3 linked regions of the Homo sapiens genome follow. The protein of the gene in region 3 interacts with the protein of the main gene of each other region in a pairwise test. Each region holds a gene or a part of one and is shown on either strand. Other genes may lie near its edges.

What was found.
Region 1: the proteins of GSTCD (region 3) and TNS4 interact in a two-hybrid assay, tested with the Homo sapiens proteins (one large-scale study listed by BioGRID and IntAct).
Region 2: the proteins of GSTCD (region 3) and CLNK interact in a two-hybrid assay, tested with the Homo sapiens proteins (one large-scale study listed by BioGRID and IntAct).

Annotation. Positions count from the first base shown.
Region 1 is NC_000017.11:40,481,124-40,484,623, reverse strand, and holds part of TNS4 (tensin-4 precursor), read left to right. Parts: intron 1-14; coding exon 15-140; intron 141-2,207; coding exon 2,208-2,300; intron 2,301-2,417; coding exon 2,418-2,495; coding exon of another isoform or gene 2,496-2,527; intron 2,528-3,500. UniProt on the Homo sapiens protein: Promotes EGF-induced cell migration by displacing tensin TNS3 from the cytoplasmic tail of integrin ITGB1 which results in dissociation of TNS3 from focal adhesions, disassembly of actin stress fibers and initiation of cell migration.
Region 2 is NC_000004.12:10,510,269-10,513,768, reverse strand, and holds part of CLNK (cytokine-dependent hematopoietic cell linker), read left to right. Parts: intron 1-171; coding exon 172-305; intron 306-3,500. UniProt on the Homo sapiens protein: An adapter protein which plays a role in the regulation of immunoreceptor signaling, including PLC-gamma-mediated B-cell antigen receptor (BCR) signaling and FC-epsilon R1-mediated mast cell degranulation.
Region 3 is NC_000004.12:105,725,784-105,729,283, forward strand, and holds part of GSTCD (glutathione S-transferase C-terminal domain-containing protein), read left to right. Parts: intron 1-795; coding exon 796-1,047; intron 1,048-3,500.

The sequences.
Region 1 (3,500 bases), on a different chromosome or scaffold from region 3:
AAGGATTGTTCCAGCAATCGAGCTGCTGAGGAAGGAGGAGCCAGGGGCTTTTGTCATAAGGGACAGCTCTTCATACCGAGGCTCCTTCGGCCTGGCCCTGAAGGTGCAGGAGGTTCCCGCGTCTGCTCAGAGTCGACCAGGTATGCGTCTGTCTCTGTGCTCACTCAAGGCCTCACTGAGGCAGCGGGGTGTGGTAGGTTCCAGTCCTGGCTCTGGCACTAGCTTTCAGGGTGACATGGCGCCAGTCTTATAACAGCTCCTAGGAGAAGCGTCCACCCCAGTGTTCTCCCCGATGCCCTCCAGCCCCAAGGCACCCTGAAAAACGCCTTTCACAGCAAGCCTGCGTGCTTCTGCCTTCCCGAGCCCCACCCCCACTTCCCTGCTTTTTTCTGATGGTGGGAGAGAAGGAGGAGGGTCCTAGCCCCCTCTAGGCTGCTCTTCTTGGAGTCAAACTGGATTCATTTCCAGGGAACCTAATGTGTGATTACACACGCAGCTAGCTTATCTCACAGGTGATAGCTTACCAGGTTTGTGTACTAGCTCAGCGCACATGTGTGTGATAGCTTATATGCTTTCCTGTGGTCTCCCATGCTTATTTGATAGCAAACATCTATGGAGCATCACCACACACCAGGCACTGTGTGAGGCAGCAGGGATACAGTGGAATCAGACACAGACACCACCTCACTAGGGAGACAGATGAAAACAGATGATTACAGTACAAGGTACCTGGGTCATAGGCCTCACTCAAACCCCAGGATTGCACCTTCTTATTTAACGGATGAGATAACGGAGGCTCCCAGAGTTACTTAATGACTCCAGAGCAATTAAGTGATAAAGGGAGGATGAAACACCCAGCCTTGTGTTCTTGACAGTATGCCTCACTGTCACAATAAGAAAGTGACCTCTGGGGAGGGTGTTACTTATAAAGGACGCCTTGCAAGAGGCAATGAGCCCAGACTGAGGAGGACACTGTGGACTGGTGGAAAGGAGTCAGAAGGTCATTGTTCACCTCCCCACCCCCGGGGCCAGCGTGGCTCCAGCAGAGATGACCTGGTGGGCAGGGGGAGACAGAAACCAGACCAAAGAGTCGACATTTATCTAAATAATTAAGAAGTTTCCTTGCCAGGCACAGTGGCTCACGCCAGTAATCCCAGCACTTTGGGAGGCCGAGGCAGGAGGATCACTTGAGCCCAGGAATCTGAGACCAGCTTGAGCAATATGGCAAAACCCTGTCGCTACAAAAATTACCCAGGTGTGGTGGAGCACACCTGTAGTCCCAGGTACTTGGGAGCCTGAGGCAGCAGAATCACTTGAACCCAGGAGGTCTTTGAGGCTGCAGTGAGCCATGATCACACCACTGCACTCCTTCCTAGACCAAAGAATGAGACCCTGTCTAAAAAAAATAAAATAAAATAATCCCTAGGCCGAAGCAGGAGAACTGCTTGAGCTCAGGAGTTCGAGACCAGCCTGAGCAAAATAGTGAGACCTTGTCTCTACAAAAGAATTAGCCCGACATGGTGGGGCACGCCTGTAGTCCCAGCTACTCAGGAAGCTGAGGTGGGAGGATTCCTTAAGCCCAGGAGGTTGAGGCTGCAGTAAGCCGAGATCATGCCGCTGCACTCCAGTCTAAGAGACAGAGCAAGACTCTGTCTAAAAAAAAAAAAAAATCCCTGATAACTCTTGACCAGCAGAAAGGTTTCCCCACCCCACCCCCAAAAAAAGAAGAAGAGAAAGGTTTCCTGAAGAGGGTGTGGCTGGAGCCATTGAGCAGATGTGTTGGCACCTCCTCTGTGGGAGGGAGAGGCAGGGGGATGGACAAGGTGGAATTTTTTTTTTTTCCGGTGAGACAGAGTCTCACTGTGTCACCCAGGCTGGAGTGCAGTAGCACAATCTCGGCTCACTGCAACCTCTGCCTCCCAGGTTCAAGCAATTCTCCTGCCTCAGCCTCCCGGGTAGCTGGGACTACAGGCATGTGAACCACGCCCGGCTTTGTGTGTGTGACTGTGTGTGTGTGTGTGTGTGTGTGTGTGTGTGTCTTTAGTAGAGATAGGGTTTTACCATGTGGGTCAGGCTGATCTCGAACTCCTGACCTCAAGTGATCTGCCCACCTCGGCCTCCCAAAGTGCTGGGATTACAGGCGTGAGCCACCGCGCCCGGCCACAAGGTGGAATTCTATCCGAATGCACTCTTTCTTCTCTGTCCAGGTGAGGACAGCAATGACCTCATCCGACACTTCCTCATCGAGTCGTCTGCCAAAGGAGTGCATCTCAAAGGAGCAGATGAGGAGCCCTACTTTGGTGAGACTCCCCAGCCTCCAGGCTCCCCCGGGATGGGGGGCCAGCGAAGTCTCCGTTGTGAGCTGAGGGGTGGGTTGGGGAAGCTCTACTCATGCAGGGCTGCTTGCTTCCTTTCAGGGAGCCTCTCTGCCTTCGTGTGCCAGCATTCCATCATGGCCCTGGCCCTGCCCTGCAAACTCACCATCCCACAGAGAGGTGGGTCTGGGCCCCAAAGAGGCAATGCCAAGGTGGGGGACCTGTTTGTTCTCATTAGAAATGGGGTTCACTCCTACCTTGTTGGTGGATTATTTTAGTGTCACGGTTAAAACTGTGTGCACTGGAGTCGCTCAACATCTCCACCTCCTAGCTGTGAAAATTTGAGAATGTTGACCTCTCTGAGCCTCAGTTTCCTCATCATACCTACTTATAGGATTGCTGTGCAGACCGAAAGAGATAGCCCGGGCAAGGCTCTTAGCGCAATGCCTGGCATAGAATGGATGTTGGATAAATAGCAGCCTGCTTTGAGAGGGTGAAAGAGCCTAAATCAAATAGTTTGGAGAGGTTTTCTCTTTCCAGGTCCAGCATTTGTTGAGCACTCACTCACCCATTCATGCTTCACTACAAGCTTGTGAAGTAGACTTTGCTGTTATCATCCCCATTTCACAGATAAGAAAATAAGGGCTGGGCGTGGTGACTCACGCCTGTAATCCCAGCACTTCGGGAGGCCAAGGCGGGCAGATCACTTGAGGTCAGGAGTTCGAAACCAGCCTGGCCAACATGGTGAAACCCCGTCTCTACTAAAAATACAAAAATTTAGCTGGGCGTGGTGGTGGGCGCCTGTAATCCCAGCTACTCAGGAGGCTGAGGCAGGAGAATCACTTGAGCCGGGGAGGCAGAGGTTGCAGTGAGCTAAGATCGCACCACTGCACTCTAGCCTGGGTGACAGAGCGACAGAGCAAGACTTCATCTAAGAAAGAAAGAAAGAGAGAAAGAGAGAAAGAAGGAAGGAAAGGAAGGAAAAGAAAACGAGGGTTCTAGATGTTACGTAATTTGCCCAAAGGCCCACAGAGTCAGACCTTGAACCCAGATCAGCATGCCCTATCCAGAGCATACAGCCAGGTAGGGGGGCAGCTCAGATGAAATAGATCATCTCAGGGGTGTGCAGGAGAAGCTCGAGAAGGGCTGTTTCTGGAAGGGCATCAAGGCAAGGGAGCCCCAGAG
Region 2 (3,500 bases), about 95 Mb from region 3:
TAGAGAACAAAACAGAGAGAATTAAGGTCACTGAGTGAGCTGATATGGTGTTGACCAAGAAGGTCCTCACAGATATAGGAAGGAGCAAAGGGTTTCAGCTCCTTTCTGGAGGTGGGGGACAGACTGCACCAGTCACAAAATCACACTGAAATGTGAATTTAACCTTTCCAGATCATAGAGGAGGCATGCAGCCCTGTTCTCCTCAGAGATGCCAGCCTCCAGCCAGCTGCAGCCCTCACGAAAATATACTGCCCTATAAATACACAAGCTGGAGACCACCTTTCCCCAAAAGGTCTGATAGAAAGGTAAGCAGACACTTCTCTGCCAAGTCCTTCTAGATGTACTTGGCATCTAAATAGAGCTTTCCTGAACAATGCCCAAAAGGAGATTATTTATGTTTGACTTTAACTTTTTCCCTTCTGGCTATATGTTACTGGGTTTTAATATTTTTAAAGTATTTTAATATTTTTAAATATGTTGCTATATAACATATTACATTGGTCTCTCACCAGATTCTTTGACTGGCATGTTTCCAGATTCTAAAGTGTTTTTTTAAAAATTAATCCAAAAAATACAGATATTTAGACACGTGTTTTATATTTACCAGCTGTCCAATAATCTTGTGGGGGGTTAACTAGGATATACAGGTTGCAATTTTTTTCCAGCAAAAGATCCATGTATTACACACTCATTTCAGTTGAACAGTCCAGCGACCATTAGTTGAGCAGTTATTATGTGCCAGACAATGTGCTAGAGGTTATGATCCCCACCCTAATGGAGATGTAAAGAGTGGGGAGATGCAAATGGATACTAACTGTGTTCTTGTGTGTCTGTCATCTATTTTGTGGTCTCTTTCTAAAATATGCTCATTCACTACAATTGGTTATTTTTGGACCATTTTTTACTTACATTACCCTATGGTGGGGGGGATAAAGTTTCACTGTATCTTGTATGCTTTCTCTCCATCACATTGGATGTTACTTACTAAAGTCTTTCACTGTAAAGCCCCAGAGGATGTGCCTCTTCCAGGTCTCCATCCCATATCCTGCTATTACTCACTGTCCTGCTACAGAGTTCGTGAAGATTTCTAAGCAGAAGCAAATGTATAGAATATCTCTGGTGAATTCCTACAGTATCCTAAAGCTCTTTTGTTATCCTTATATTCATATTAATTTCTACCTAATTCTAAAAGGGTCTCATAATCTTAAATTAGACTTTGGAAAATATTTTCACATCCTGGCCAGGCACGGTGGCTCATGCCTGTAATCTCAGCACTTTGGGAGGCCAAGGTGGGTAGGTCACCTGAGGTCAGGAGTTCGAGACCAGCTTGACCAACATGGAGAAACTCTATCTCTACCAAAAATAAAAAAATTAGCCAGGCGTGGTGGCACATGCCTGTAATCCCAGCTACTTGGGAGGCTGAGGCAGAAGAATCGCTTGAACCTGGGAGATGGAGGTTGCAGTGAGCCAAGATCTCACTACTGCACTCCAGCCTGGGCAACAGAGCTAGACTTCATCACAAAAAAAAAAAAAAATGCATATCCTTCTTTTATTGTCCCTTGTCATGCACTCGGCTTCCTTTTGCTCTTTCATCTTCTTCGTAAACATGGGGATCACTTGGTTCTAACTAGAGGTCCACACAAGATTACGCTCCCTCCCAGATCCCAGATTCCTCATAGGCATGAGACAGGCTTGGACCACATCAGGATTTCCCTGATTTCAGCTATTTGAGTATACCTTTATGATTTGTGGCATATCTATGTCCTGTCAATAATAACATTTAGTTAATAATATTCTTTAAGGTGACCTGTTTTCACTTTATATCACTACTCTGGTTAATTTTTTTAACTAGTATTATATATTGTAGAAAGTGACTTTAGAAGTATTCCATTCCTTAGTCTATGCCCAAAAGAATTGAAAGCAGAGACTCAGATATTTGTACACCCATGTTCATAACATTATTTACAATAGACAAAAGACGGAAATAACCTATATGTCCATTGACAGATGAATGGATAAACAGAATGGTATACACACACACACAATGAAACAGTTTACAGCTCTAAAAAGGAATAAAATTCTAACGTGATACAATATACAAGAACCTTGAAAACATTATGCTGAGTGAAATAAGTCAGACATGGAGGACAAATATATGATTCCAGGAATACAAGGTACCTAGAATAGGCAAATTCATAGAGACGGAAGGTAGGATGGTGGTAACTGGGCCCTGAGGAAGGAGGTGGAGGTAATGGAGAGTTATTCTTTAATGGATACAGAGTTTCAGTTTGGAGTCATTAGAAACTTGGAGATGGATAGCGGAAATGGCTGTAAAGCAATGTGAATGTACTTAATGCCACTGAATTATACACCTAAAAATGGTTAAAATGGTAAATCTTATTATATTATTGCCGAAAAGAGTCAAATTCTGGAAAATATTTGAAGAGATTTATTCTGAGCCAAATATGAGTGACCATGGCCCGTGACACAGCTCTCCAGAGATCCTGAGAACATGTGCCCAAGGGGGTCAGGGTGCAGCTTGGTTTTATACTTTTTAGGGAGATAGGAGACTTCAATCAAATATGCTTTTTTTTTTTTTAATTTTTTTTGAGACAGAGTTTCCGCTCTTTTTGCCCAGGCTGGAGTGCCATGGGGCAATCTCAGTTCACTGCAACCCCCGCCCCACCTCCCGGCTTCAAGTGATTCTCCTGCCTCAGCCTCCCAAGTATCTGGGATTACAGGCATGTTGCCACCACTCACGGCTAATTTTGTATTTTCAGTACAGACGGGGTTTCACCACGTTGGCCAGGCTGATCTTGAACTCCTGACCTCAGGTGATCCACCTGCCTTGGCCTCCCAAAGTGTTGGGATTACATTTAACAAATACATTGTTTCAGTCCAGAAAGGTGGGACAGCTTGAAGTGGGGCCTTCCAGGTTATAGGTAAATTTTAGCAATAGGTTGAGTTTATCTAAAGACCTGGGATCAATAGAAAGGGAATATCACTGATAGATAGAGGGCTTATTATCGGTGAAGATAAGGCCTTGTGGAGACCAAAGTTCTCATTGTACAGATGAAGCCTTCAGGTAGCAGGCTTCAGAGAGAATAGATTGTAAATGCTTCTTCTCAGACTTAAGGTCTGGATAGATGTTAGTGCCGAAGAGCTATGAGGCGTGTCTGACCCCTACTTCCCATCATGACCCAAACTAGTCTTTCAGGTTAAATGTTAACAGTGCCCTGGCAGAGGAGGAAGTCCATTCAGATGGTTGGGGGACCTTAGAATTTTATTTTTGATTTACAATATTTTTCCCTAATTTTTTTAAAAAGTCATTGCAACGCAAACAAAACACGCTATTAAATTGTAGCAGGATCCCATCACCTGCTAATGGCTGTCAGCATAAGGACTGCTCTTCTTCTGTTAAAGAAGAGATTAGAAATGGCAGAGAGATATTAACGACATATTTGGCCAAAATGAAACATTCCTTTTGAATTATTCAGGGG
Region 3 (3,500 bases):
TTGCTCAACATCATTAATCATAGGGAAATGCAAATTAAAATTACAATGAGACACTACTATATACCCACAAGAATGACTAAAATCAAACAGACTGATAATACCAAGGTTTGACAAGTTGTGAGGAGATACTGGAACCTCCATGGATTGCTAGTGGGAATTGTAAAATGGAAGGGCAACCATGGAGAAGATTTTAATTTCTTTAAAAGTTAAATATACAGTTACCATAAAACCTAGCAATTTGACTCTTGGATTTTCAAAGAAATGAAACACAGTGCCACATAAACACTGCTACATTATAATGTATAGCAACATTATTTATAATAACCAACAACTGGAAACATGCAAATATCTATCAACCAGTGAATGAGTAAGCAAAATATAGTATATCCACACAATGACTACTAGTCATAATAAAAAGAAACAAACGATTGGTCAATGTAACTATATGGATTAACTTCAAAAGCATAATACTAAGTGATAGAAGAAAACCACATTTTATGATTCCATTTGTATGAAATTCTAGAAAAGGCAAAATTGTAAACACAGAAAGCCGATCAGTGGTTGTCTGCAACTGACTGTGGTAGCAGAGATTGAGTGTAAATGGTTACAAGGGAAATTTCGGGGGTGACGTAAGTGTTCTAAAACTAGATGGTTGATAACTGGATACATTTACTACAACTCATTGTTTGAACTATACACTTAAATGTGTGAATGTTGTGGTTTGTAAAGTTACCTCAACACAGCTATTATAAACAAAATATATATAATAATGTGTTTTATTATTTTCCTACCTAGGTAATTATCAGCAGGAAATTTTCTGAGAAGCTGGTAGAATTTCCATTGCTAGCCTCTTGGTACCAGAGGATTCAGGAAGTGCCAGGAGTAAAAACAGCAGCTTCTAAGTGTGGGATCCAATTTCTCCATTTACCAAAGTTGTTGACAACCTCAACTGAACAGCATCCAAACTTATGTGAAGTCCCAGGTGTAGAAGAGCAAAGCGATCCTTTATTTATAGGAGGACCAAGACCAACCATGGCCAAGTTAATGGTACTTAATTATTAACATTTTCTTTGAAAAATTCTATGTGATAATATTGCTGAGCATTCTACTCCAACTTGTAATCATTTGTTGACATTATTTTTGTTATAAATTTTATTTGTAGCTTTCTTCACTCTTTACCAGTTAATATTTCTGCTACTCTTTTCATTTATGTGAAGTATACTAAATTGAAAACTTTTAGTATTATGTATTTTTGGAGCCAAGTAAGTCACAATATATACTTTTAAAAAGCCCTTTTCTCAAAACTTTTTTTTTTTTTTTTGTATATTCAGGATATTGACCAAGGTAGCATCATACCTGGTCAAGTATACTATTTTAACATAATCTTTTTCTGTTGTAAAGTTTTGGTCTCAGCCTTTTTTAGTTTGGATAATGATTGCAAGTTAAATATAAAGATAAGGCTGGGTGTAGTAGCTTACACCTGTGATCCCAGCACTTTGAGAGACTGAGGCAGGTGGATCACTTGAGGTCAGGAGTTCGAGACCAGTCTGGGCAACATGGCAAAACCCCATCTCTACTAAAATTACAAAAATTAGCTGGGTGTGGTGGCACGTGCCTGTGGTCCCAGCTATTCAGGAGGCTAAGGCACCAGAATAGCTTGAACTTCGGAGGGCGGAGGTTTCAGTGGGCCGAGATTGTACCGCTGTACTCCAGCTTGGGCAACAAAGTGAGACTCTGTCTCGGAAAAAAAAAAAAAAGAAATATAAAGATTAATATCTCAATTTACATTCCAAGGTTTTGTTTAAATTTGTAATTTTGGAATTCTTTGAATTTTATTTTTACTTTAATCTTTGATTTTAATGTTTTTGTTACATAAAAGCCTGGGTGACAGAGTGAAACCCTGTTTCAAAAAAAAAAAAGAATGCATATGCTTTATTTTTTTTCTCCTTGGGGCATAGTTTGTTTTCAGTAGTACTAATTGCAAAGTTTTCAACAATGGGCTTTCCTTTCCCTAACATTTGAAATGATCTGCAAAAATATTTTGCTTTTAATAGGTGATGTGAGGATTTATTTGAATAGAGAATTCATGAAGTAAGTTATCCATCGAGTTACACTGGAAAAATATTCATTATATTTCCCTATTTGGGTTAGGAAGTATTTGAGTTCGGTAGCTAACAGAGTTTACTGATTTAGAAATGGACAGGAAGACTTTGGTAAGGATACCAATCCCTTAACTCTTCAGCTAAGCTCTGTGGCCTATTGATTAAGCAATGAAACATGATTATATAGTTGATTTTAGAAGTTATTGAGGCATGTCTAGATTTTGATGTGTCTTGATTATATTACTACACTGCCAAGGGACCTCTGGTTCACCTCTCGAGTGAATATGCAACTACTTTTGGAAATGATGAAAATATCTTAAAATAGATAGTGGCAATGATTGAACAATTGTGAATATTATAAAAACCACTGAATTGGATACTTTAAAAGGATAAATTATATGGTATTAATATATATATTTTATCTCAATATAGTTGTGTTTTTTAAAAAGACCCTAAAGTAAGAATGAGTTTAGTGAAATGAGAAATAGCAAGAAGGTCAGTGTGGCTAGACTGAAGAAGATAGAAGAGAGGTAGATGATGTCAGAGAGATGTGTTTGTCTTTCTGGAGGCAAATCAGTGCTCTGGGCTTGTAGATCAATAGCCATATCTCTAGCCCTAATGAAAGATTATTTGTACTATTTCCTTCGGGACACAAATTCAGCTAGTTTTTATAATGGAAAGTAATCTCATAAACTGATACAAAGCATTCGATGCTAGAGTCTCACAGATTTTTATTTGAATAGGTTATTCCTAAAGATAAAAATAACAGAGCCATGGAGATATCTAGATATAGATATATAGATATAGATATAGATATAGATATAGATATAGACTGTGTACCTGGAATGTGATTGGAAGGGGTCTGTGAATCCATGTGTATGCCATGCCACTGTACGTAGATCAAATAAACAAATGTACAGCTTCTAAGATGGAGAAGGATCCTGAAAATGTTTTAATATATTGAAAAGTGGTCCTAATTCTTGAAAATATTGGGAACCATTTGGTTACACCAGAGGAATTTTTCTCTAGTGACATTAAAGGCACTTATAAAAGACTAGTATGAGTGGTATTTTGGGGTATGTGTTAAAGTGGTAGCTTTTAGGCTGTGGCGATTTTCATATATGTAAAGGGAGACTTTGATGGACATATGCAGAGTTCTTTTTTTATTATTTCTATGTGGATTGTTTTTGATAACATTTTCATCCTCAGCTGAACTTTCTCTTTGATATCCAATATATTTCTAGGTAGCTTATTGCTTCTATGGATTTTCTAGTAATAATTTTAAAATAGCATTACTTTTTATTATCACAATATTAAAAAATAGGAAAGTAATTGTGATGTCAAAATACTCAACACATGGTATTTTTATTTAATTAAAATATGTATTTTGGGGAATAG